Homo sapiens: one gene and its partners. The protein of the gene in region 3 interacts with the protein of the main gene of each other region in a biochemical or structural test. Each region holds a gene or a part of one and is shown on either strand. Other genes may lie near its edges.

Region 1 (7,031 bases), on a different chromosome or scaffold from region 3:
TCTGAGCGTGGATGTGTGTTGGACAGTTATTGCTTACTAACTGGTGCTAGTCTAGTTGAAGCATTCCCGTGATAAATGCTAGGGAAGGCAGCAGAAGCCTCACAACCTAGTGCTAACCAGAGAGCAGTCAATGGCCTCCGTGATCCCTGCCCCATGCCCTGGGGACCTGATAAAGGACATTCTTTTCTTTTCTTCAAGATCCTTTTAAAGTTTGATTCTCTGGATTATCTAATAATTTACTATTTTGGGTTGTGGCAACTTTGCCCAATACAAGGAGTGTCAGAGGTTGAAATCTCCTTTATGCGCACATGTGACATCGATTCCACACTGACTCTTGCAGCTATACTCTTCCTCCTCAATTTTGGCCTCATCTTCCTAAAACACCACGTCTTACTCCCAAATGTGGTATCATTCCAAGCATTAGCTTTCCAACTAGTTCAGAGAGAAATGAAGGAAATTACAGTACCCACAGCAAATAAATAATGAGGCTGAATTCCAACCTTTTAAAAATGTCTTAGCCAGAAAAATGTCTTACGTTAGCCTATCTCAATTCTTATGATTCTTACCACAAAGAGGCAACTGAAGTTTCATCTCAACTACTCCAATTCCCTTCACCAGACCACTAAGCGGGGTGGGACACGGTAAGAACGGGTACCTGAGTAGACTTTCCAGAAAGGAGAGCCGAGGATGCTGGGAGCCATCTTGAATTCTGGTGAAAACAAAGAATCTTTGGTATTCCATAATTCTTACACTAGGCATCTTTCTCTTTTCCTCAAACACAGTTTTATGAATGAATATGAATAGATTGCAACTTGTTATGCTGTGAGCTAAGGAGGTCCACTCTGGTTCAACCCAGCGTGGGTCATTTTAGAAAATGTGCTTAGTCATCTAGCATGAACAAGCTCTCAACCTGTACCCATAGGGAAGTGCCCATGACAGTAATTTCTAGAACTACAGTTTTAAGGCAAGACACACATTAGACACTCTTAATATTTACTGACTAATGATAATATATACAGATTGCATTATGCTCTTCATGGAATCTCCACAAATACTGTTTTATTGTTGTTTCTGTATAAGAATACAAGATTGGGAGGAAATGGTCATTATTAGTATTGTACCCACTATATTGATGAGGACATTAAAAAACCCAGAAGGTGAGTGGGAAGGAAAAGAGGGAGCCTACCCAGCTCTCCTGATTGCTGGCATACTGTTCTTCTCAGTTCTTACTAACTTACTACACCACAAATCTTTCCTTTGCTTAGGATGGCCCTCCATTTATCTAAGCATCTTTTAAGATTTGACTTCAATGTTATTTATACTTTGAAGTCTCTTTTTTTTTTGAGATGGAGTCTTGCTCTGTTGCCCAGGCTGGAGTGCAGTGGCACCATCTTGGCTCACTGCAGCCTCTGCCTCCTGGGTTCAAGTGATTCTCCTGCCTCAGCCTCACAGGTAGCTGGGATTTACAGGCATGTGCCACCACACCTGGCTAATTTTTTTTTGTATTTTTAGTAGAGATGGGGTTTCACCATGTTGGCCAGGCTGATCTTGAATTCCTGAGCTCAAGTGATCTGCCCGCCTTGGCCTCAGAAAGTGCTAGGATTACAGGCGTGAGCCACTGTGCCCGGCCCATCATCTTTTACTTGCTTATTTCCTTGTGTGCCTCTCTTCTGCAGTAGATAACATGCTCTATGAGGACAGGAACCACTGGTCCCAGTGTCTATAGAGGCACTCAGTAAATCCTTGTTTAAAGAGTGAATGAACCTCCACGGTCCCCCCAATACTGAGCTCCTGCAGGAACTTTTACCATTCAGTTAGCATTTAGAATATGTTAACTTGACCCCAAACAGATGAAAAACAACACATGCCTCATCTCCTTCAGGCCATAAATATTCTGACTAAAAGGGCTTCATATCTCTGATCCCCCACTACAGTTTATATGCTCAATGAGTGTTAACTATGAGGATAATATCTTAATACTATTTAATAAGCCTCATTCTGGGACCTTATAATCTAATTCTGATGCAGGTTTTCAAATTATATATCGATAGTAAGCCTCTCTGATTATACCACACATAATACACAAATGAAAGAAGGGATCTTGAGAAAGTTCTACCAATGATCACAAGATGTTTAAAGATGAAACAAGTAAGTTTCATTCCCACAGTGGTCAAAATGCTTACTTTCTTCAATATGACTCCCATGTGTGCACCGGACAGCCCTCTTACCTGCCACATTTCCCTGAGATGCACACAGAGCACATTCATAAAGGGATTCAGATTGGTGGGGCTAACATTGAGATTAATGCAAGAAACATCAGTTTCCCCAGGTATATGTCAAAGCAGACAAGAGATCATAATTTTCTAGGATGTTTTATGAAACCAGCTGGTAGGTCACAGACCTACCTAAAAGAAAATCTGATAAAGGAAAGCAAACATGGCTACAATTATTCATACTTCTACTGTGGGAGTTTCATAAACAAAATAATAAATATTTTTATCTTGCAATAAGATCAAGTTAAGTGATTTGCTGACATTCTCTTGAGGCTTAAGGCTTGTCTTTAATGCGAAATACAAATCATATTTCTCGTGGACACATTTTAATAATAAACTTAAAAGCATATGAGACAAAAATAATGAAAACATTGCAATGAAAACCAGACAAACTATCTACCACTTCAAAAGGAGTGAATGAAGACTGCTCGTCAACACCCTGATGCAAACAACCTCAACACAAAATGCCACATATTGAAATCAGGTTTTATGGAAAGAGAGTCAGCAGGGATGAGAAAAAGCTACTACTTGAAAACAGGTAATTGACCACATGGAAATATACTCACCCAATGCATGCATGTGTGCACGCGCATGTGCGCACACACACACACATTCTGTCTCTCTCTCTCACACACACACACACACAACTTGTAGAACAGATTTGATTTTGGTTCAATTCAAGTTACTTCCCATCTTTCTGCAAAAATCTCACTGGCCAACAAAAAACAGATTTGGTCTCTTTTTGCCTTAGGAAAGGACAAAAAATGTGATGCCAAATCTCTTTGGTCTCTAAAATTCCAAGGCTGCCCCCAAGGGTAAGAAATTGGAACACTCACTGCCTCACGAGTGTTCAGGGGGAGTCCTCATTGTTTCTCATTTTGCTACTTGGGTCCAAAGGCCATGATATAAGCACAACCAAGGGTGCCTGTGGAGCAGCTCACCTCTGGGTCCTGTAATGACAGGTCGGTGATGCTGTGTGAACGCCGTTCCCAGGGAGGAGGTCTGTGAAGGGGAGGGGCTGCTGAAACCAGACTTCTCCGACTTCTTCAGTGTGGTTGGAGATGGCATTCCTGGCAAGAAGGATCAACTGGTAAGTACACTTTAATTCATGGAACAATGATTTGTGCAACCTAAAAGATAACATTTAAAGAATTAAAAACAAACAAAAAGAGAAATCCACCTGTGAATGAAAAAGATGTTGTGAATTGCTTTGCATTTGTCACAGAAACAAAGAGGTGACAGAATAGTCCCCTGATAAGTCGGTCTGTATTTGATTTCAATTTATTCTAATTAATCACAGTCCATTTTTGGGTTATTGGTCTTCAATAATAATACAGGGTTCAACTTTTCCAGTGTTTCCTAAAAGTTGCTGCTTGTGTCTGTGACCTCTGTGACTCCCAAAAAGGAAACCATGTATGCTTATGAAGACTTCACATGCAATCGTTTCATCTTGTTGGTTACCTTGCTTTGACACCAAATCACTTTCTCCATATTTTAAATAATTTGGCTGTTTTAACATAAGAATACCCTCAACAATGGCAACTTAGTTGTTCATTCAATGAATTCTTTAGAATAGAAAAAAAGAAAAAAGAAAAGTAAAAAAATCTTAAATGCCCTACAATTGGGGACTGGTTAAATAAGTATGGTATAACCAATGTAAGCAATACTGTAAAAGAGTAATGATGTGGCAAAACATTTATAATATAATGTTAATTGAAAAAGGCAATTACAAAATAGGATGTTATACTATGACACCATTGAAAAGGCTATTTCTATGCACAGAGAAAGAACTGGAAGGCAATATGCATAAACTATAATGGTAGTTCTCTCTCTGTATTGAATTTGGGTGATTTTCATTGCCTTTGTTTTGCTTACCTGTCTTTTCTATGATGAACATATATTGCTTTCATGTTAATACAATAAAAGCTTGTTTTTAAAAATAGTACTTTTATTATTGTGTCTAAAGTTTTCACAGCATTTCCAGCATAGAAAATGCTTTGGGAAGAAAATAATGGAGAAACAGTTCCTTGTAATTACTGGATTTGTAATGTTCTCGGCAACCACGCTGACATACCCAACTGGAGGCATCTATCAGTTTGATAGGGTGCCAATTAAAACAATGAAAATTTGGATATAAAAATAAAAGAAATGACTCCTAGTCTCCGCATCAGGGGACAAATTTGGGCTCTCTTAAGGTTGTAGCACAAAACTGGTCTGCACTGATGTTAAAAGAACCAAATTCCATTTTACTTATACATGTTTACATGTGCTGTGTTCTGCCCATGACCAGAGAATTATTTGGATGAACTGGAAAAGTAATAAAAATCATAATGATATTAACATGTAACTGTTATGGAGTACCATGTACTGTGCCAAGCACTTTATAGGTATAGATCTTTCCAGAAATTTAGCTAGTTTTGCGTGTATCTAAATATGTCCCTGTTATTTCTGATCACAGATTTCCTTAATGCAATTCTACAACATGACCTTTGAGTGTGACTCAGACTGTATAAGGACAGAGTCCTTGTCTGCTTTGTTCCCCTCTATGTCCAAGACCTCCAAGGGTCTGAAACACCCAAATGGTCTGAAAAGATATTTAAACTACTTGTGCAGGTCTCAGCTTTATCTGTAGCTTCATGAATAGATGCTTAAACATAGCAAAGCTTAGAATTTTCACCCCAAGAAAGAAAAATTGAAAATTGGTAAACACATTTGCATAGTCAGATATAAGTACAACATAGAGTGGTATGTGATTTCATACTAATTTGACAATTTGAATCAGATCCTTTCTAGATCAACATCCATGTGATTTGAATTAAAAATGAAGTAATTAAGTGACTTTAGTTATATTTGTTGCTTGCTGAATCAGTAACCAGTCACACCATACCAAAGTTCTAATGTAGGATGCACTGAGATTTTGGGTGAACATTCACTGTAAGATAACCTAACCTAAGGTTATCATCATGTAATTCCACTAAGGAGGAGATTTCAAATAAAAAAAATGAAAGAAATAAAAAGCTAGCAAAATGTAAACAAATCTCCCAACTCATTTAAACCTTTTTGTGTAGACCAATTTATAGGCTGCCAACCATTCCACTGATTTAAATTTAGTCCAATGCCTGAACTACATGTCATAAAACAGAAGCAGAACAGATAATTAAAACAAAAATCAAAACTTTAAAGGTGGCAGATTTTTTTTTTTTTTTCAGATAATGGAATCACTGATGAAATCCAGTATCCTAACTAATCTTATTGATGATAGCAAATGGCTGGACTCAAGAAAAAGTTATGATTTCTTTGAAAAATTCATGTTTTCTAATTCATGCCATTCTAAATACTGCAGAAATATTGACATGATTGAAATCCACTATTTATGCTTCTAAAAGGAATTACAAGTAAAATTTGGGCAATAACAAGTATCAAGAATGACCAAGTTGGTAAACAAGTTCAAAAATAGCAAAATTTAAATCTTCTTTGCAAGGGTTAAAGACGGAAGAAATACCGTCAGCATGCAGGAACAACCAGCCAAACTATGTATAATCTTCTAAATTTATCACAGTCAAGTAATATGAACCCTAAGGCTGTCATGAATCTCAAAATTACTTTGTGTTTTCAATTTTTAAAGAGTTCGTATTGAGCACATTTCCTTATTATATACTTTAATATTTTCTCTACATACATAATGTATGTTTTGGTTAATTTGTTTTGTATATTTAATTGACCAGATGAAATTCCAAAATGCTAGTAAACTGCTTTCTGTTAAAAGCTAGAAAACATTAATGTTGGCTTTTATTTTTGAAATCAAATTTGGTTCTGTACATTACTTTAAAAATAAACTCCTTTTTAAAATCTCTTTTGCCAATTATTTATGCACAACTGTTACAAAATTACTGTATGGATTAATGACTGATTGGCTTTCTTTCAATGCATTAAAACTTTAATTTCAATGTATTTTCTAGAAGTACCAGATTTTTAAAAAAAGACTACGGATGAAGTAATCCTACTCTTTTTCTGGAGGAAATGAAATGTTACTTCAAAGTTCAATGCAGAAAAATAAAGACTTTTGTAGAATGAGAAGCAGAAATCTAGCATAATGTTTTGTTTCAATGGGGCATTTCATCCTTTTGATTGGTATAAAAAAACCCAATGAGAGTAAATAGAATTGGAGAAACATGTCAAGAAGGCCTGTGGCTTGTCACTGGTTTTCTAAACATCCAGAATTTTTGAATTTTCAATTTCCCTCTAGTCTGCCATTTTTTTCTAAGCTATATGAGTCATTCCAAATTGTGTTCAGTAGACAAGGGCAAACATATATGGGATTCTAGTCATGTAGTGGCTTTCATCTCTGGAGGCACTTATAAGTGCAAAGTTCAACAAGAAAACCTTGAAAATACAGGTCAAATGCACTATTCACAAAGATTCCTTCAAATTCATCATTGGTATTTGTGGTAGTCAGGCTGGGCTGGTGGCTCATGTCTATAATCTCAGCACTGTGGGAGGCTGAGACAGGAGGATTGCTTCAGGCCAGGAGTTCGAGAGCAGCCTGGACAATATAGTGAGACCTTATCTCTACAAAAAATTAATTTTTAAAAGTTAGCTGAGGCCAGGCACGGTGGCTCATGCCTGTAATCCCAGCACTTTGGGAGGCTGAGGTGGGCAGATCACAAGGTCAAGAGATCGAGACCATCCTGGCCAACATGGTGAAACCGCATCTCTACTAAAAATACAAAACTTAGCTGGGCATGGTGACATGTGCCT
Region 2 (7,031 bases), on a different chromosome or scaffold from region 3:
GCATAAATTTTTTCCCAAACCATATCAGATGCAGATGTAGCACTATAGCTTGTGTCAAAGCTCTGGTAACTCTTCCCACATTTCAGAAAGATGAGGCTGCTGGGCATGAAGAAGGAAAAAAAGTGTGGGTTGAACCAAAAGAGAAAGAGGGAAAAAAGAAAAGCATAGGAAGTTGGTCAACAATGAAACTTTAGTACATGTTGGTCTTTATTTCGTCTTCCAGAAGAGATGCAGTGTGTGATCTTGTATAAATAACCAAGAGGACTATTGACATTTCTAGATCTGGAAATTGTCAATATATTGTAACATCACTCCACACTGCAATGCGGATGCCAACTAACAAATCACAGGCATCCTGAGCTAAACAAAGAGGGTCTGATGCCAATCCTGGTGCCAGTGGCAACCATCTTTGGCATTCTCTCTGTTCTTTCTCATGTTTTTCTCCCAGTCATTTAGAAGTGGGGAGAGAGAAAAAGGGGGAAACGTAATTTTGTTGCTCTTTCTGCTGCAAACATTACATTTCTCTTTTCTGATTTTTCTTTCGTGTTTTCCTTTATACTTCTTTTCCTGATTTATAAAACAGACTTAGGTGAGTTATCATGTACTTAGAAGACAAATAAAAAGTCATCACTCGCGATATGCAGCCCTCTAACTGACCGGAGAATTATCTTTTAAAATCTGCCTTCTTTAATCAATTGCACTATAAAATGACATAATTAACCTACACTTGACAAAGAAGAATATATAAATTTTGAAAAGGGGAAAACACAAAAGCATCCTGACGTGAGTTTTTCAAAGGAAGAACCAACAGATGTTAAGAGAAGATGATGCACTGGCAGGTAGCAGAGGATACAAGTTATATACACAAGATAAAATAATGAAAAGTTCTTACAATAGAGATTGTTGAACCAACAACAAAATCAATGTTTTATCTAAAACCATGGTCTCTTAAGAGTTGCTTAAAACTTTATAGTTATCATGACCAGTGGTGCAACATGGAAGGCATTTATGCGTTTTTTTTCTTTTTTCAATCTATCTCTACAAATCTTTATTGTCAGTTCATCAAAACTAAGAGAGCTGGCTGCCTTCCCCAGGAGTAAATGTGCATGCAGGCAGGCACACCTCAAAACCTAGCCTTCAAGCAACTTAAAATGTGAGCAGTAGTGAAGTGGTTGCAAATCTTCCCTCCCTGCACTAAAAAGTTACATGACCCACTTTTTGAAACTTTACTTCCATCCTTGACTTTCACAACACAGTTACAACACATTTATAGTCAATCCAACACATATATACAGCCCACCTTAAAGTGTCACCTCCTAGACATCTGTCAATCAAATAAGTGTCATGTGTTACTGAGTTTTATTTTAGGACACATGGGACAAAAATATTATTTTCCCCAAACCATCATTATTTGGACTGTAATTCTTAAATGCATGGAAATATTAAATGCAATGTTTCATTTTTTCAGGAAAAGGTAATATTTCTAAAAGTGCAATGTCCAACACCATTATTTAAAATCAGACTAAAAATTCTAAAATGACACTTAAGCCTATCTCCAAAGCTACAAGAAAATCAAGACAAAAAGCACATAGTGAGGGCCTAGAATTCAGAGTCAAAAAAGTAATTTTGATTTTTTTGAATAATAAAGCTCATAGCAGTTTATTAAGTCCCACATTTATATAACAAACCTCAGGTAACAGTCTGTCACCTGGCTATCTGCAGGCCATTTTTCCTCCCACCAGGCCAAGTTTGGAAATGACCTACCATCTGTGACAGCTCAAACTTCAGTCTACTTTTGGTATGCGGCTTTGTAAAATGATTGTTTTACTATGGATTGTTGGTAATGCAAGGACATCTATATCTTGATGCATTTATTTGAAGAAAAGAAATTCTTACCTACTTAAGGAAAATATATTAAGAAAAATAAAAATAATAAACATTTCATTAACTCAAATATTCAGTAATAACATCATCTTTTTTAATTATTTAGGTAAAATGTATACCATTCTCCTTCTCAGGTATTTTAAATAATAGGTATGGTATGCAGTTTCTGTATTCTTTTTAAGATTTATCTTAAACCAGTGTAACCAGTCCACTTTCTGTTTTTTGTTCTGTAAGCAGCGCTGCGACTTTCCTCCTCGGTAAGTTTTATGAATTTACATACAAGTAAACTAACATTATTAAGTGTTCCCAAGTAACTCTGGGAACATACTATAAATAATTTAAATAATAACTCAATTCCATTTAATCGACAGTGAATATTGCACAATCAAAAGTGATGATAGAAATATTAAAATTAAGTAAATCTAGGTCTACGTAAGATATACTTTTGATATTATCTATCTTAAGCATTTTGTAATAGTAAACATTAGTTCTATTTTCAGTGCGATACCACTAAGTTCATAAACAAAGTCCCTCTACCTCATTAATTAATAAGGTTAATACAAAAATTATCTAGGATGGTTTGGCTATTCATAAATAAAGTTATATTTTCAAATCAGGAAAAGATTACTAGATTAGATGCAAAAATGTAGCCTACGACAGAAAGTATAGTGTAATGAACTATATTTGTTAGACTACCCTATGTCTTTGAAAAACAGTATTATTTTAAAGATACTTGAAAACGCACCTCTTTGTGGTCTTTCTTAAATATCCAAGCCTATCCAGGTACGAAAGCTCTGTGTCTATTTACATGGCTCGCACATGGCAGCGGACATGTGAGTGAAAGCGGACACCCTACTATACCCAGAGAGGGTGGAGGATATCTAGGGGCCTTGAGGACCATCTAACTCAAGCCAGATACTCTGTCTACGGAGATTTGTAGGCGGTGTTTGCCGTGCTAGAAAAAAGAACAATCTGCTCCTACCTTGCTCCTGCACGTAGTATGCCAAAAACAAATCAAGCTCCTTAACTGATACTGTGATATGATGTGGCTGGACACAAAGTGCTGGGTTTGTGCAATGTGGGGATTTCATGAGCCGCTCTCCATCGGTACTTTCCAAGGGGATGCCTTTGAACAGGATCACCATGACTAGATCCAGACGCCAGACTTTGTCTGCCTGTCGCAGGCAGTCGATTCTCCTAATCTTACCCTTCTGGTCGGGATTGGATAAGACACAGCACGGGTGCTTCTTGCCAGTCACGGTGAGCACAAAGTCCTCTCGATACTCCTGGCGAATATCTTTGCGCAGTTTGGCAAGGAGCCTGGATGCCCACTTCTGTTTGATTTCAGGCTTTTCACTGAGAAGCTCATCTTTGACTGCTCTTTCTTCATCCTTTGACATTCGCTTCTCATGCTTTTTAAAGTACTTGCGTTTTCGAGCCTGCAGGTTGAACCAAGTATAGGCAATTGCACGGACATGTGGAAGAAGTGCCTCGATGAATGGGTGAAATTCATCCTGTGGAAGACAGAGGGGTGAGGAAAAGATGTGCATAGTCAGTTTAATTTTAAAAGCTCAAAAAATAAGAAAAGAAGACCACAACCCGTTTCCAATTCAGTACAAAAAGTTATACATGAAAATAACATTCCTTTCTTATTTAAAATTATCAAAATAACAGGACAAGAAGAAAGTAAAGTATGCCCAGCTGTCCCCTTTCCACCAAAATTCACAGGTCAATTCTCCCTCCTATAAAGGAAATAAGGTTTATATTTTGTATTACACTCTGGCCCCATCCCCCTTGTTTCCACCCCAATGCCATGCATTCTACATTCTTTAAAATATAGGCAACTAACTAAGGTGCTTGGCACCTAATATAGTATTTCAATATTTGATTGACCAACTAACACTATGCAGTACCATTTTACAAAGAACACAGTGAGATTTTTTTTTTTTAATCGGAGTAGAGCTGTTCAGAAGGCAGGAGCGATGCCACAGTTCATTTCTCTTCTCTGTGGCACAGAAACACAAAGCATATAGATGCTCAGTGTAATGCCACACAGTTCCCGCTTTTGGAGCATGCTCTCAGCAAGAGGCTGCTGGTGGCACAAAGAGCATGCGCCATTAAACTTGATCCATTTTCTTATCAAACGTCCAACATTCCAACACTGAAACAGCACCATTCCAAAAGTGGTAACTAGAGAAACCGGTATACAGTGAGGGAAAGTGGGCAAAGGACACAGCTCGTCGTATCAGTGTCCTGAACAGAAGGTTTCCATACTTTGAGCAGTGCATTCTCTCCCCACACTACCAACGCCAGCTCCCAACACACACACACACACACTTGCACTCTCCTGCTTTCTCACACACACTCTTGCATTTTTAAATAGAAGTTTTCAAACTGGAAAACAAAAATTACATGAATGTTCTTCCATCAGCTTCCCTATAGAATATGCAGCCCCACAGAGTCCGTTAATTTGTTCACCGATCACATGAGTATAGCAATTATTCTAAACCTCTTAAAAATCAATCTGAGGTGAACAATGAAAAATGGCAACTTGGCACCAACTTTACATTCTTTGTGTCTCTGCATGCTGTGGTGGGGTGACACTGCTGGTCAGTTACTGCTTTTGTGGAATCTATACAATTCATTTGCCATGTAGATGAATTATCAGTTAGAACTGTGGGTGCATATATGCATGTGCATGTGAATTTGCAGATACATAGATTATAGAGTACCAATCTTTTGAATTAAGTAGTTTACCTTTAGGCTCCTGCATTTTTCCTGCCTGTTTCATCCAAGCCCTTTTTTTAAGGGAGGGGATCAGTGAGGAATGGTGGATAATCTTTACCTACAGATATTTCAAGTTACTTCCCAGTGCAGTCAGTTTCGTTACTTCCTGATTTAGGTAAAACCTGTCTTATAAGCTTAGGCCTATTACTGTTCAAAGAGAAAGAGCTTAACGTCCTGTACATGCACACCGCATGTACGCAATAAGCCAAGATTTGAAGCAAATGAGAACTTCCACCACCACCACTTTTCTGATCATATTGACTATACTGTCAGCCCAACGACAAAATAACTCTCTGATTGTATCCCAAGTTAGAATTTACATACTCATGTTAATCACCCTGAACTACGTGGAATAAATTCTATTTAACAGCAGACTGACTAATTAATTCCATTAGGTAAATATGATGAAAGTACAACTAATGACTCTTTAACAAAGAAGGTGTCAAAAATCCAATATAGATATGAATACATTTTGAAGAAGAAATTCGAAGTTTTAATGCTACAGACTGCAACATGTTAGCTGTTTGCACTTCAGATATGGAAGGAGTACATGTCCCATCCAATCAATAATGTAGTTATCAAGTGTTCTAACATTGCTGTAAGTGTTCCTTCACCAGAATAAGTATGAATCAAAATTTTATAACAATACAGAATGCTGATGATTACATCACAGCATGAGGCATACCCAAATGCCATAGAGGAAATCATTAAACCGATCAGTAGTTTCCAGCAGAGATTTGAACAATTCAGTTACTATGCGAGCACATTAAACTAGGCCATGGAAAGAGTTAAACCACAATCTGTTCTTTGTGTGGGAAGGCAGCCCTGCTCACAGCAACCACATCCCATGATAAGACCTCCCTATCTCCATACACTTTCTGATGCCATGCTTTTAGCTTTCACTGTAACTACAAAAACTTTGTTTATCCCCTTTAGGAATATATGCAAAAGGAAAGCCTGCTCAAGGAAATGTGGACTTAAATGTGCTTTGGAAACTCACTTCCTATAATCTTTTACTACGATTTATTGATATGACTAAAAAACACACATATATGCACTCACAAAACTAAAACCTTGAGAATGTAAAGAGCACATGAGGTGGAGTGGGTGGGCTCTGTCTCACTCATTTTACCCTTGCCATGCTTTTTAAAATGCAATATTATTTTATAAATATTAAGCCATGTGGTAACACGTAAGTACTTACACCTTAAGTACTATGTTCAGTGACATTTCATTTTCTTATAAAGACATCAAACACAGTTTTGATTAAATTTGAGTTTCAATATTTGATTATAAATATAATCTATCACACAAGAAAGCTCAAAATTTTAATGAGTTATTTTAAACAACCAAAATTCAAATTTGAAGGTTGAATTTGAAAATTCTTAGCAAATGCACACAGTTTTTAAACGTTCCTTTGACTTTGCTGTCAATGCTGCCAATATTGTTTTAAAACATGCTCTTTTTTTTGAGAAATAAAAGTAGCAAACTTTCTCAGGCTGCCAGTTTGCCTTATTGATATCGTTCAGGGTTTCACTATTATGTGAATTCAAGTGAAGCACTTATTTGACAAGGGGACATATCCTCCAAAAATGACTGTAAATTGAGGTTTGCTGTAAGTCGCATATATTTCTGTATTAACATGCCTAAATGTCATCTCCCAAGTGTGACTGTTTCCTAATGCTGAGTAACACTAGAGTCTTAAAGATTATGAGTGACATGAATATGGAACATAATAACTGTCCTGATACAAAAATATTTTTTTAAAAGGTGATTAAGGTTTTCAAATATCCTAACTAGTAGTGGATTATTACAATAGCATTAAGCAATCATAAATTCTTTAAAAAAAGCAAAACATATAAGTGATTTAAAACCAAACAACTGTATACAAAGGTAATAGGCAACTTTGCTCTTTCAGAATTTTTAGTAAAATGCATTGATGTTCAGTAATTCTCTTTTAAAACTTCCTTTAGTTGAACTAAATTGACAAAGTAAATAACAAAGTTACCAATTTCAGATATAAAAATAAAGAGTCTTAATTCCACTAGGCATATTTATTTTTCTTCCGTTTCCATGAAAGGGATGGATAATTTAGACCAACATAGAGGTAGAAGAGTAAATACTAGGTGCTCTTGGCGCATTGCTATATAACAACAAATCATGCAAAAAATGTACCTAAAGAACTTAAAAGCAACGAAAGAAAAATATATTTAATGCCATCATGCCAATTGAAAGTTATATTATTAATGGTTTACATTATTTTTAAACATATATTAAATCATATGATAGTTCTTAATTTTTCCTTTATATCTGATTTATACTGGTGTATAAATATTGGTTATTGATATGCTGATTTTGTA
Region 3 (7,619 bases):
TCTCAATGGCCCCCGGGACAGCCCTGCAGCCACCGGTGACTCGGGTTCGTCTGCGGATCTTTCCCGGCCTCCACTCCATTCAGGGACAGCCCTGCAATGGGGCTCCCTCCCAAAAAAACGCATGGCCTTCCTGTCCCCCAAAACCAGCTTAACGGCAGCCATTCCCTCCCTCCTCCGGGGGCTGAAAAACCAGACCACCTTCCACTAAAAGAGGCCGTTTACACAGACCCCTTGGTGGTCCTGGGGGCTGGGGAGGCCCGGAAGAGGAGCCTGGAAAGCCACAAGTATCCAAAACCCTTTGGAAACCGAATCCAAGGTGCCTGGGCCTGGGACTGCCCTCCCAGTCCCCAAATCGTTACTGTAAAGGGGGCTTTGGAATGGGACGTCAGCAGGCTCAAGGGGTGGGGGAGGGTGCCAGGAGATCCGCCCTGCCCTCCCCCACCACACAGGGTAGACGGTGGCGCGCCATCAGCACAACTGCATCCACCCCTGGGGATGCCCGACTGGGCACCCCCAGGCCTGTTTCTTACTGCAATCCCGGGATAACAATACTGCCTTCCCAGGACTCCAAACCCATCCCTCCCCTCCCTGCTGGCTTAGGGACCGCTGCCCCAATACCCGGGGGCCTATGGAAGCGCCTCTTGGGTGCCACTCAGGGAGGTGGCCATCCCGTCCACTTAACCCAGAAACTCAGAAAACCCAAATGGAGCTCTCAGGCCACGCCATCTGGCAAGAAAAGAATGACCTGGGTAGACAGGTGGGAGTCGCTTTCCCAACAGGCTCCCACTTCAGCCCCGTCTGTTCAGATCGCCCAACTTACCCCCAAAAAGCCAGGGCACTCCTGGACCCCTGCCCACCGCCCGGAGAGGCACCTCCCTTTCTGTTCCCAACGCTGCCTCGCCATCTTCACAGACCCCCAATGTCCCTCCCCGCGGAGATACACGGACCCCATTGCCCTCAAAAAGAGGTAACACCCTGGGACCCCTCCGCCGAGGATGTGTGGCTCCTCGCAGAAAACGCAGACCCCACCCAAGTCCTGTCTTGACGCCCTCGGTTCCCGTCTGTGTCTCAAGGTGGGCAGAGCCTCCAGGCCCCTGGGACCAGGACAGGGACTGAGCGAGGGGTGAAAAGAGTGCAGAACAGAGAGGGGGCGGCCGGCAGGCTACACACCACCGCCCCCACCCGCCCTCCTGCTCTCCACCCTCAGGCGTCCCAGCGCGGCTCCCCATACCCCAAAGATGGACCCTCAATTCTTCCGCAAGGCATTCGCGGCCCCTGCTCATCTCAGCCCCACCACTCTGGACGGCCCACTTCCCTTCGGCTGCTCCACGTGTCCCTACAATCCGAGCCCACGGACCAAGCCTCCTTGGAGTGTCCAGCTGCCCAAAGCGGCCACCGCTATGGCTATGAAATAGAGGCAGCATCGCACTCTTGATAGAAATGAGAAAATTGAGACCCAGATCGGGTAGAGGTCTTCTGTTTGGTGGCAAGGCCAGAATGCCAAGCCCAAGGGCAGCCGCACAGCTTTCCCCCAGCCCCCCACCCTCCCCGGAAGGGACAAGCACCTCTAATGCCCAAACCAGGGCCGGCCATCAAGGCCCACCGTCCCCTGTTGCCCAGTCCAAACTCCCAGTCCAGAAAGTGGAACCCTAGGAGGGGACGGAGTGAAAAAATACAGCCAGGCCCACCAGGCTCCCGGTTCCCCTCGCCGCCCCGGGGACTGCGCTAGGAGGGGCGTTGGTGTAGCCGAAGCGCTCCAACTACGCGCACCTTCCCGAATCGCCCGCCAGGTAGGGGTGAACAAACACGCCAGGGAAATACAGCAGTGTGGACCCGAGCCCCTCGAGGGTCCTCCAATACTATGAAGTTCCCCCGCCCAGACTCAGGCCCCAACCCGCGCTCCTAGCCTCGCCCTCCCCCTCGTTAAAATACAGAGAACGCAGAGAAAACGTGCCGGGCTCCCCCCATCCTGGCCCCACGCCAGGTGCTCTGCCGACCTCTGGGGAGAATCCGCGCGGCCACCCCGGCGGCGGCGACGCGGTTCCTCCTCCATTTTCACAGATAAGGAAACTGAGGCTGGGGGAGGGGGAGAACCCAGAACCCCAGAGCCGGATGCTCCAACCACGGTGCCCACCGCCCAGACCAGAACGCAAAAGAAAAAAAAAAAAACGGAACAAGGCCCAGAAAGGGAGAGAGGTGGTCTGCCCAGGAGTCTCAATCCCGCCCGCAGACCTCGCTGGGCCCCCGGAGCCCCCGCCACTGCCGCCGGGGCGGCCATCCGCTCGCCGCCCGACCGCGTGGCCGCCACGCCCCCCGCGCGCGCCCCACCCACCGAGGCCCCGCCCTGCCGGCCGGCGCGGCGGCGGCCCGGGCGCGCCCCCCTCCCCGCCCCCCACGCGCCACGCAGTTTCGGGGTCCTGGCGGGGGAGGGGTCTCAGGCGGCCGCCCCCGCAAGGGCCGGGATCGCGGCTGCACTCACCTGTGTGCGTCCGCAGGTGCGACTTTAGGTGCGAGGACTTGTAGTAGGCTTTGGCGCAGTCCGGGAAGGGACAGCGGTGGCTCTTGGCGGCGGCGGAGGGCGCGGCGCCGGGGGCGCGGCCCGAGGACGGGGACGAGGCGGCTGAGGAGGAGGAGGCGGGCGAGGCGCCCCCCGGGGCGGCTCCGGGTCCGCCGCGCAGGTCGGCCAGGATGCTGGCGGCCAGCAGGTGGGGCGCCGCGGCGGCGCCGGGGCCCGGGCCAGAAGCGGCGGGGGGCGGCGGGGGTGGCCCCGGGGTCCCGGGTGAGGCGGCCTCGCGGCGCGCCGCGCGCACATCCAGGCCGGCGGCGGGGCCCGCGCCCTCGGGGCCGGGCCGCCCGCGGTGCACCACGGCGCCCGAAGAGATGGCCATGAGCACGTCGGCGGCGAAGTAATCCACGCACGCCACGGCCGCCGACATGCCGAGCAAGGGCGCGCGGCGCGGCGGGCGGAGCGGAGGCGGCGGGAGCGGCGTCCGTCCGGCCGGCGGCGGCTGCTCGAGTGCGGGAGGCGGAGGAGGAGGAGGAGGAGGCCCGGCGCGCGCCGCCGCCGACGCCCGCGCTCGGCCTGCCCCGCCCCGCCTGACGCGTCCTGACGCACCGGAGCCCGCGGGGGCGGCCACAGCCCGCCCCGCCCGGAGGACGCCCCCTCGGGGCGCCGCAGCCACGCCCCCCGCCCGGCGCGCCCTCCACCACTCTCCGAGCCGCGCGCGGCCGCCGGGGGCGGGGCTCGGGCCGGAGGAACCCGCCCCCCGGCGCGCCCACTCCGGCCTCCGCCAGCGCCTAGCGTCTTAGGCCCGGAGCGCGCCTTCTCCGCGCTAGGGTGCAAGGCCGGGAGCCCCGCCCCCTCCCGGCGCGCCCCACTCCAGCGCGCGCCCCCGTACCCTTTCCCGGAGCACCACCCCCTCAAGCCGGGGCGGGAGGCCGAGGACCCCGCCCCCTCTCCGGCACGCCCCTCCTTCCGAGAGCGCGCCCCGCCCCATCCCGGCACGCCCCTCCCTCCCAGAGCGCGCCCCGCCTCCTCGCTGGCGCGCCCACCCCACGCCGGGGCGCGCGGCCGGCGGGAGCCCGCCCCCTCCCCGGATGCTTCCCTCCTGGCCCCGGGCGCGCCCCCGTTCGCGATGGAGGAGGGCTCCGATCCCCACGTGGCCGGGGTTGGAGGGGTGCGGAAGCGGCCGGCCCCGCCCCCAGGCCACGTGCGCGACCCTTCCCCCCTCTTCTCCCGGCCTGGGGCCCTGCTTTGACCCCGCACTCAGGCATCTGCTCGTCCTCTTCTCTGGGGTTCCCCCTCGCCGCTCACAGAGCCCCTCGGAGCCTCCCGGCCGAGACACCCGGTATCCCGCGCCCGCGGCGGGGCCCGGGAGGGTGGGGCAAGGCTGCGTTCGTTCCTCTTTTTGCACCCAGTTCCGGAGCTACTAGAGCGCGCCCCACTGGGGGTGGGGAGGGCCGGTTGGGTCCCAGAGGGTCGGGATAGGGGGACGGGAAGAGGGGGCCGAACGCAAAGGGCTGGGCTGGGCTGGGGGCGCCTGAGCGGGTCAGAGGTTCCCCGCCCTGCTGGGACACCGGGGTCCGGGGCTTCTCTTTCCATTCCCAGGCATCGATTCTTGGGGTTCGGACGGGAAAACTGAGGCCAGGTATTCGGGCCTCCCGGCCGCGAGGACGTCCAGGCCAACTTGTTAAATATTAGGGGGGACACCAGGGACGCGGATGGCCCAGTTCGCAGGCCCAAGGCGGCGGGGGCACAGAAACTGGGCGGCCCCCCTCGGTCGCGACCGCGCTCCCGCCCCTTCCCAGCTCCGGCGGGGCGGCGGGGACTGCGCAGTGGCCGGAGCTGCCTCCAGGGGGCGGAGCTGCTTTGGCCTGCGGCGACCTCCTGCTCTGGGTTGGGCATGGACAGAGGCCCTGACCCGATTCGGGGCTTCTCTAGCCCCATCCCCCGCCCACCTGCAACCCCAGCTGACGCCCTGAGGCTGACCACTGTTCCCTGGGTCGCCCGCACTGCGCCTGGGCTCAACCATGCTTGGTTAAGCCAGCTGAGCCCTCCCTGGGCCCCAGTAAGCCCACTCTACGTGGCTGGACAGAGCGGAGCCGAGAGAGAGGAGGTTCAGCGAAGTGTGGGAGGGTACAGGGTGCCCTGCACACACTTGCCCCTCTCCTAGGCCTGGGCTCCAGAGCCCTCTCTGCACCCCTACCATTCGGTGGGCGCTGGGGGTCGGCGTTCCTGCTCCTGCTGGGCCTCTGTTGTCTTTGAACTTCTAGGACGATGGGCCACTTGGGCAGGTCCCCCAGGTCCCCACCATCCCAGCAGCCCCCAGGGTCCTGGAACCCCGCATTGGCTTGTGGACAGGTGTGTCTTGAGGCCTCAGGGTCCACACCCAACCATGCGTCTTCCACTGATGTTTCCTGGGCTTAGAGCAGAACCAACCAGCCCTGCCCTCAAGGGGCTTACAGTTGTAACTGGGAGGCTAACGATGGGGGGCAGGGGTGAGCAGCCTCCAGGGGTGGGCCACATGGCCCCAGGCAGGACCTTCACTGTGAGACTCCATTGTCTGCCCACTCCAGCCATTATCAGGGTTTCAAGTGAGTGGCCTCATCTGCAGGTCATGCCAGCCACTCCACAGGCAGGAGACCCCAGGTGAGGGCACACAGCCCACACCCCACCCATGAGGCTTCTATTCACACCCCTAAGCCCCAGGAACACTCAGGCAACCCATGACCCCTGCGGTGAACACAGACAAACCTCCAGCAGCGCCCGGCACAGGGCTCTGTCCTCTCTTCCTTACTCTCTATGACCCTGTAAATTCTCCACCGGGTGCGGTGGCTCACGCCTGGAATGCCAGCACTTTGAGAGACCAGGGTAGGAGGATCACTTGAAGCTATCAGTTCAAGACCAGCCGGGGCAACGTAATGAAACCCCCAACTCTCCACATTAAAAAATGAGCTGCAGGCCGGGTGCAGTGGCTCACGCCTGTAATCCCAGCACTTTGGGAGGCCAAGGCTGGCAGATCACCTGAGGTCAGGAGTTCGAGACTAGCCTGGCCAATGTGGTGAAATCCCGTCTCTACTAAAAATACAAGAAAAAATTAGCCGGGCCAGGTGGTGGGCACCTGTAATCCCAGCTACTCAGAAGGCTGAGGCAGGAGAATCGCTTGAATCTGGGAGGTGGAGGTTGCAGTGAGTTGAGATCGAACATTGTACTTCAACCTGGGCGACAAGAGCAAAAACTCCATCTCAAAAAAAAAAATTAGCTGGAGGCCAGTCATGGTGGCTCACGCCTGTAATCCCAGCACTTTGGGAGGCCGAGGCAGGCGGATGACCTGAGGTCGAGAGTTCGAGACCAGCCTGACCAATATGAAGAAACCCCGTCTCTACTAAAAATACAAAAAAAATTAGCCGGGCCTGGTGGCGCATGCCTGTAATCCCAGCTACTCAGGAGGCTGGGGTAGGAGAATCGCTTGAACCCAGGAGGCGGAGGTTGCAGTGAGCCGAGATCGTGCCACTGCACTCCAGCCTGGGTGACAAGAGAGAAACTGTCTCAAAAAAAAAAAAAATTAGCGGGCGCAGTGGCCTCACACCTGTAGTCCCAGCTACTCAGGAGGCTAAGGTGGAAGGGTCGCTTGAGCCCAGGAGGTCAAGGCTGCAGTGAGCTGTGACTGCACCACTGCACTCCAGCCTGGGTGACAGAGTGGGACCCTGTCTCAAAAAAAAAAAAAAAAAAAGGAGTTGTCATTCCCATTCTACAGATGAAAAAATCAAGACTGGGAGAGGACCGAGAACAGCCGGCTCCTGCTCACAGCTAAGAGGCAGCAGACACTTTGGGGCATCCATAACTCAGCCCCTTCTTTCTTCAAACCTGTTCCTCACCTATAAATGGGGGCTCACCTCTACCCTTCCCTGACAGCGCCCAAGAGGATCAGGGGGACAGCTCCTCCCAGCCCCAAAGATGGACCTCCCAAGCCTGAGGGCTATGGAGCAAAGCTCAGCAGGGGACAGACAGCACCCAGGTGTTGCTGGGAGTGGGTCTCTAGCAGGGCAGGAAGAACACAACGGGACTCTCAGAGGGGCCACGGAGCCAGGAACTGGGGCCTTGCCTCATAGAGGGCAAAGAACACAGTCTCCCAGAGGACAGATGAGGGCAGAGGTCACATAACCGGGGGTGCACCCACAACATGGATACCCCAAGGTAGGTGAGGGCCAAAAACAAGGCTGCAGGGCCGGGTGCAGTGACTCACGCCTGTAACCCCAACACTTTAGGGGGCTGAGATGGGAGGACTGCTTGAGCCCAGGAGTTCAAGACCAGCCTGGGCAATATAGTGAGACCCCTGTCTGCATAAAAAACAAATTCAAAACTTACCCAGGCATGGTAGTGCACGCCTGTGGTCCCAGCTCTTCGGGAGGCCGAGGCGGGAGGATTGCTTGCGGCCCCGAGGTCAAGGCTGCAGAGAGCTGTGATACACCCCAGCCTGGGCAACAGAGCGAGATCCTGTCTCTAAAAATAGTGATAGATTGTCTGGGTGTGGTGGCTGATGCCTGTAATCTCAGCACTTTGGGAGGCCAAGGCAGATGTATCACCTGAGGTCAGGAGTTCAAGAACAGCCTGGTCGACATGATGAAACCCTGTCTCTACGAACAGTACAAAAATTAGCCAGGTGTGGTGGGGGGCCGCCTGTAATCCCAGCTACTCGGGAGGCTGAGGCAGGAGAATTGCTTGAACTGGAGAGGTGGAGGTTACAGTGAGCCAAGATTGTACTACTGCACTCCAGCCTGAGTGACAGTGAGACTCCCTCTCAAATAAATAAAAACAATAGTAAATAACAAAGATGCAGCAGAAGAGGGGGTAATATGTAAGGACGTGTGTGTGTGTGTGTGTGTGTGTGTGTGTGTGTGCGTGCGCGCATGCACTGGAACTGCCATATCTTCTTGATTTAAGACAGTCGGGTCTTTGCTTTGTGATAGTTTTAATAGTACTTTTCTGTAGTACTCAAACATTTTTTTTTACCATGTGTATTTACTACATGCCTCTGAATGTCAACAGGCATCTAAGCAATGCAATGATGGGCCATTTGTCCTTTCATTTTTAGGCTTTTCTGTATGAAAATTCATCT

What was found. The genes of interacting proteins can lie anywhere in the genome.
Region 1: the proteins of KLF16 (region 3) and NFIA form a complex in vitro, tested with the Homo sapiens proteins (one study listed by BioGRID).
Region 2: the proteins of KLF16 (region 3) and NFIB form a complex in vitro, tested with the Homo sapiens proteins (one study listed by BioGRID).

Annotation. Positions count from the first base shown.
Region 1 is NC_000001.11:61,379,549-61,386,579, reverse strand, and holds part of NFIA (nuclear factor 1 A-type), read right to left. Parts: intron 3,344-7,031; coding exon 3,215-3,343; intron 1-3,214.
Region 2 is NC_000009.12:14,304,123-14,311,153, forward strand, and holds part of NFIB (nuclear factor 1 B-type), read right to left. Parts: intron 3,914-7,031; exon of another isoform or gene 3,801-3,913; coding exon of another isoform or gene 3,786-3,800; intron 3,399-3,785; coding exon 2,867-3,398; intron 2,724-2,866; exon of another isoform or gene 2,630-2,723; intron 1,897-2,629; coding exon of another isoform or gene 1,856-1,896; exon of another isoform or gene 1,631-1,855; intron 1-1,630.
Region 3 is NC_000019.10:1,860,562-1,868,180, forward strand, and holds the start of KLF16 (Krueppel-like factor 16), read right to left. Parts: upstream 3,019-7,619; 5' UTR 2,937-3,018; coding exon 2,480-2,936; intron 1-2,479. UniProt on the Homo sapiens protein: Transcription factor that binds GC and GT boxes and displaces Sp1 and Sp3 from these sequences. Modulates dopaminergic transmission in the brain.